Regions from separate parts of the Homo sapiens genome. Here region 1 is linked to region 2. The links come from fine-mapping of genetic effects on gene expression. A gene starts in region 2. The other region holds a variant in brackets. All regions are shown on one strand. Distances are from middle to middle. Region 1 has its middle 22 kb from the start of ZKSCAN7. Region 2 holds the start of ZNF445 (zinc finger protein 445).

What was found.
Region 1: its variant is fine-mapped to the expression of ZNF445 in whole blood (TOPMed, PIP 0.96).

What each region holds. Positions count from the first base shown.
Region 1 is chr3:44,531,740-44,534,655 of GRCh38, forward strand. No RefSeq gene overlaps it. Among named protein-coding and RNA genes, the nearest start is that of ZKSCAN7, 22 kb to the right of the region's middle. RefSeq lists silencers at 1,118-1,246, 1,138-1,432. The variant G/A (reference allele first, on the strand shown) is at 1,288.
Region 2 is chr3:44,476,215-44,479,130 of GRCh38, forward strand. ZNF445 (zinc finger protein 445) reads right to left here and starts at 1,456. Exons shown (of 8, transcript NM_181489.6): 1 at 1,377-1,456. It overlaps LOC101928529 (a long non-coding RNA gene), which reads left to right and starts at 1,476. Exons shown (of 4, transcript XR_940785.4): 1 at 1,476-1,995; 2 at 2,368-2,455. RefSeq lists silencers at 1,204-1,253, 1,274-1,433.

The sequences.
Region 1 (2,916 bases), 56 kb after region 2:
ATCCATCTGCCTCAGCCTCCCAAAGTGCTGGGATTACAGGCATGAACCACCACGCCCAGTCTAGAAGTTGCTCTTAATTCTCCACCCTCTCACATCTAAAACATCAGCAAGTCCAGTTTATTCTTCTTCCAAAATGCATTGTAAATCCACCCATTTCTTTCCATCTCCACAGCACATCATCCCTAGTCCTGGCCACCATCTTCTCTCAAATGTAGTCCTGCAATGGTGCTCTAACTGGCCTCCTGACACTGAAATTAATCTCCCCCAAGCAACTTCAAATTGGTTAACCTGGCCAACATGGTCTTCCGCAGGCAGGCCTCTGCCCAACTCTGACTGCACCTCTGACACTGTGACTCTCATCCAGGCACAGTGGCCTCCCTTCTGTCACCTGATCAGCCCAATCAGTTACATCTTGAGCCTTTGCAGCAACTTTTCCCACTGCATAGAATGCTCCTTTCTCACACCTTCAGGGGTATAGCAGTCCTTTAAAATTCATCTGTTAGTTTAAATGGCACCCCCTAAGAAAGGAGGGTGAAGTTTTTCAATACTTGTTAATATAGGAGCATAAGAATTACTGTAATTATCTTTCAACCTATTTGTTACCTTTATAAATAAACTTCTTATGACATAGACTACTAACACTAATCTGTGAAATGTTGAATTATGATGAAAACAGAGAACTGAGAGGCTGGGCACGGTGGCTCGTGCCTGTAATCCCAGCACTTTGGGAGGCTGAGGCAGGAGGATTACTTGAGGCCAGAAGTTTGAGACCAGCCTGGGCAACATAGTGAGACCCCTGTCTCTACAAAAAAACAATATAAAAATCAGCTGGACGTGGTGACACACACCTATAGTCCCAGCTACTCAGAAAGCTGAGGAGGGAAGACAGCTTGAGCCCAGGAGGTCAAGGATGCAGTGAGCTATGATCACACCACTTCACTCCAGCCTGGGCGACAGAGTGAGACCCTGTCTCAGAGACAGCGAGAGCAAATGGGGGTAGGGGGGAACACTAAGGATTCTCCTTCAAATAGTCCAATTTATTTCTTTTTTGTTTTTTTGAGACGGAGTCTTGCTCTGTCGCCCTGGCTGGAGTGCAGTGGTGCGATCTCGGCTCACTGCAACCTCCGCCTTCAGCGTTCAAGCAATTCTCCTGCCTCAGCCTCCCAAGTAGCTGGGATTACAGGCGTGCGCCACCACACCCGGCTAAATTTTGTATAAAACAAGTACCATCCACTAGATGGCGCTTCTAGCCTGTTCTATCCTGTTCTTGACTCTTTTCAGGACCCT[G/A]GACAGTGCCTGGTGTACAGCAACCGTTCCGTAACTATTGAATGATTTGTCATAAACTTACATGCACCCTGAACCTATCAGCACAGCTTTAAAATATATAAGGCAAATGGGTCTACAAAAAGAAAGAGACGAGTGTGAAGCCAACCCACACCCCTTAGAAACATACTAGGGAAACCCAAAACAACAAAGAACTTTTTAAATGCAAAAGTAGAATGACTGCTTTTACCCTCTGTATTTCTGAATTATTTTTTCAGGATTAATATGTATTACTTTGATAAATGAGATTAAATTTTTCTTCATGTTCCCTTCTCAAATTGTAAAGTCTTTTACTATGGTTCTAAGGAGCTGGTCAAACCTGTTCAGGGGTGTTAAGTGCACACCAAGATGGAAGGTGACAGGAAGGTGTATAACATTAGGATTATATTTAGGTTTATTCTTTTTTTTTTTTTTAGACGGAGTGTTGCTCTGTCACCCAGGCTGGAGTGCAGTGGCATGATCTCAGCTCACTGCAATCTCCACCTCCCAGGTTCAAGTGATTCTCCTGCCTCGGCCTCCCAAGTAGCTGGGATTATAAGCCTGCACCTCCACGCCCAGCTAATTTTTGTACTTTCAGTAGAGACGAGGTTACACCATGTTGGCCAGGCTGGTCTCAAATGCCTGACCTCAGGTGATCTGCCAACCTTGACCTCCCAAAATGCTGGGATTACAAGTGTGAGCCACCACGCCCAGCCTGTTTAGAGTTATTCTAAAAATCATAACTTCTTGGAATTAAAAAAGTTCTATACATGGCTAGTAACCCCTTCTGCAGCTGAAACTGACTACAAGTCCCCTTCTGTCACCCAGAGTGACCAGAATTGTGTTCTGTGAGGGGCAGGGTTCACTGGATAGCATGAGGTGACGTGCCAGGCTGAATTCTCTCCCTGCAGTGGAGGCTACTCTACAATAAAGTGAAAGGAAGATCTGACCTAATGCCCTGCAGAGCTTCATTTCTCCCACCATCTGGTTTTGTAAGGAAAAAAAGTATGTGCTTCTATGTATTTTTTTTAGCACTACTCCTTAATTTAAATGTCTATTTAAAAAAGACCAAAGCTTAACTGGTTATCTTTGAAATATAATTTCTTTTTATTTTCTTCTTTTACTTCTTTATATTTTCTTATATTTCTACAATCATAAGTACAAATTAGGTGGCAAAGAAATGATATAAAAGAAGCATGGTATCTGCCAAATCAAATTCTCTGGATGAGCTAATGCCCACCCAAGTGGCAAGTTGAGGAAAGGAGGGTGCTGTTGACTTACGGTCCATTTCTAATCTGTCCTGAGCGTTGGTAAGGCCAGGGGCTGGACAGTGGGCTATTGGAGAGGACTCCAGTCTCAGGCCAATGTACTCGGTACTTCCATCAGGAGGGTATGTGGCAGCTGGCCCTTCCATCCACAGTATCTTTTGGGCAGCTATACTGATCACTGTGGGAAAGAGAGTTTCTGCGGTGCCAGCTGAGTTGGTCTTCCCTGTGTGAGACACCCAAGGGGAGCCATGGGCGGCCTCTGAGGAGAAAAGTCTTCTTATTGCCTTCATGTCTTTATGCCCCGACAGCATAACCACTCAGCAGAATTCCACAGTTGCTCAAGGAG
Region 2 (2,916 bases):
CTGCTTATGCACTAATTCTTCCTGGATACCGGAAGCCAGAGAAAACCTAGCGGTGGAATACTTGCCATTTTTCATGCTTTTTGTCAGTTTCCTTTTTAAGTGCATACTGAGGTTTATCTTCAAAACATTCTCATCTTTTCGGCTTACAGTAAGACTTTTTTTTTTTTCTAACCAAAATGTGTCTGCCTTTCATTAAGATAACATAAAAGAGCAGCCTAATTCTTTGGTCCCTGAATATGCACACACATGCATGCACACACACACACGCAGACACACACACAACACATGGAGGCTCTCTGAAACTGCTTAATCAAATTACTGCTCAAACCACTCCCTGGCACTTCCTTGCAAAACAACCAACCTAATACTGAGTTTTTAGTTTTGCACTACAAGCCGTTTGAAACAGAATAACATTCTTTCCTGGCCACCACTTTTAAATTCGGAAGGAGACAATACTCTGATCTCTTAGGCCTGTGCAAGTCAGAGTGTGCTACAATCGCTGCAGGTTAGAGCTCTGCCTTTGTTTAAAAACTGCATTTTATATACTAGTTACTTCATTGTGAAAGATAACCACCCTGACAAACAAGATTTTGCTATTTTTCTGCACAAATGTCACTTCACCATTTAGAGCTTCATGCAAATGTGTCTCCTACAGAAAATAAACTGCAAACACGATTTCTTAATTATCCTCGCCAAAAAAAAAATGTTTTAGTGGTGTCATAATGCCAGCACTAATTTTAGCCAAAATAAGAACAAATGCATTCTACAAATTCAGGAGATTATAATTTTTAAAAAGCAGTAGTATGGATATACTTAATGTCACTGAATTACACACTTCCAAATGGTTAAATGGTAAACGTTTATGTATTGTATGGTAAATGTTATGTGTTATTTTGGCACAATATTGTTTCCTCACAATAATACTAACAGGTTTTTTAAAAAGCAAGAGCACGCTCTCATTTCGTAATATATATTTATGGATGTCAGTGTGCAGAATTATGCACAGATATTTTAAATGTCAGGAGGCCTGGAGACAGATTTCAGGATTGCGGCTACTTTTACTTTTCTTCTACTTTCCCGTGTTATCTAATTGTCTCTGATAAATACGCTTTATATGCAGAATTGGATGAAACGAGAAAGCCCGGAGAAACCCGGGCTCCAGATTCTCTACCCCGGACGCCTGGGAGGCAAAGAGGTTCTAGATACGCCCTCAGCGTGGCGGGGGCGGGATCCACCGCCAGACCCCCGCCACGGGCGCAGCCTCCAGGCCGGGCCCCGTCCGCCGCCCGGGCAGGCCCGAGAATGCCGCGGACTTCGGGGAGCCCCGCGCCCGCAATGCCGCCACCCCCACCCCCGCGCCCCGCCAGGCCTCTCACCGACTCCCGCCGCCGAGCGACAATCGGTCCACCCGCCGCCACCGCAGCCGCCCGTCCCGCGCCTACCTCCCGGCGGCTCCAGTCGCGCACGCGCGTCGGCGCCCGGGGCCCTCCGCGGCCTCTCTAGGAAACTGGGAGGCCCAACGTCTCTGCTTCTCTCCGGCTCCGGTGCGGCGGGCGGCGGGGCTTGTCCAACATCCCTCACCTCCCTCAGTTGGACATTTCCCTTCCACGCTCGGATGCCCAGCCGCGCCTGTTTTCTTGCATCCCTCCTGTCGTGTCTGCGGGGCTGCCCTGAAGGCCTCTTTCCCTCCAGGGAAGAAAGGGATCCAAAGCTAGGGGTGAAAATAGGGCCAGCAGTATCTAGCAGACTGGTCCTGGCCAGGAGAAGGGGTTAAGGGAGCCACTCATTCTTCGCCTGGGTACACTTCAAAGAGGGGAACCAGATCCTACGGGAAGCTAGGTGCCAGAACTCCTGCCTTTCCAAGACGAGCTCATCCCCATCATCACCATACCCAGGAATACTTGTTCATAGCCAGCTCAGAGGTGCACCATACTTTAGCTTCCCACGGCCTTCACTCGTTTTCTCCTGTGGGTGAATTCTAACTAGGCTCGCCTGGTGAGTGAACAATGATGCCATTGCCCAATAATATGTGGAATCTGGGAGGAGTAGGTTGGGGGTAGGGGGTGGAGGGGCTGCTTGAAGAGGAGGTGAAGCAACCTGGAGAGGTTGCCCACCCCCTGTAGGAGCAAATGTCATCTATTGCCAGTGCCAGAGAACCTTGAGGGTGCACAGCCAAAGCCATAAGGCCATCTGCTGCCATTGGAGGGCATGCTACAAGCTGCTGTCCTGGTAGTCCTCTGGTTTGTGCTTCCTAGTGGCAGGCTGCAACATGTTGACGATTGATCTTTCAGATGGGCATTGATGATGCCCATCTGTGCCCTGAGGCTTTGCTTTACTCATCTGATCCACCCCTTTTTAATGCCCCAGTCACCAAAGATGGAAACAGAGAATAGATCCTGAACACCAGGAAGATGGTGACAAGGTGATAGAGAAACAGATGGCACATTCAAACAAGGTAAGTGGGGAGAGTTCACAAGGGGCGATTTACACAAAGTGGACAGGGTTAAGGAAATGCAACACGGAGTGGTGCAGAATCCCATGGCTAGCAAAATTTAGAAGCTATTCTCACCCCTAGGAGCAGGCCATCTGAGAGAAACTGTGGCTTTCAGTTGAGGGCTACATCCAAGCCATAGTCCAGCACAAAGGAAGCTGAGGTAATAAATAACCTGAACCCAGCTCTCTTCTGATCTCCTGCCAGGGCTTCCCATTGGCCCAACTCAACTGGAAGCCAGAGGGCAATCCAGGAAACTCAGTCTCCCAAGTGTCACAGCAGGGTTGAGGACTGAGACTGAATATGGAGGGGCAATTGGAAAATATCCAACACATACAAAAAGGAAAATAGAAACTGCTTGTCAATGCCTAATTTGTCCATTAATTTCCACTCGATATAATGTTCTTGAGTGACTCAGAACCACC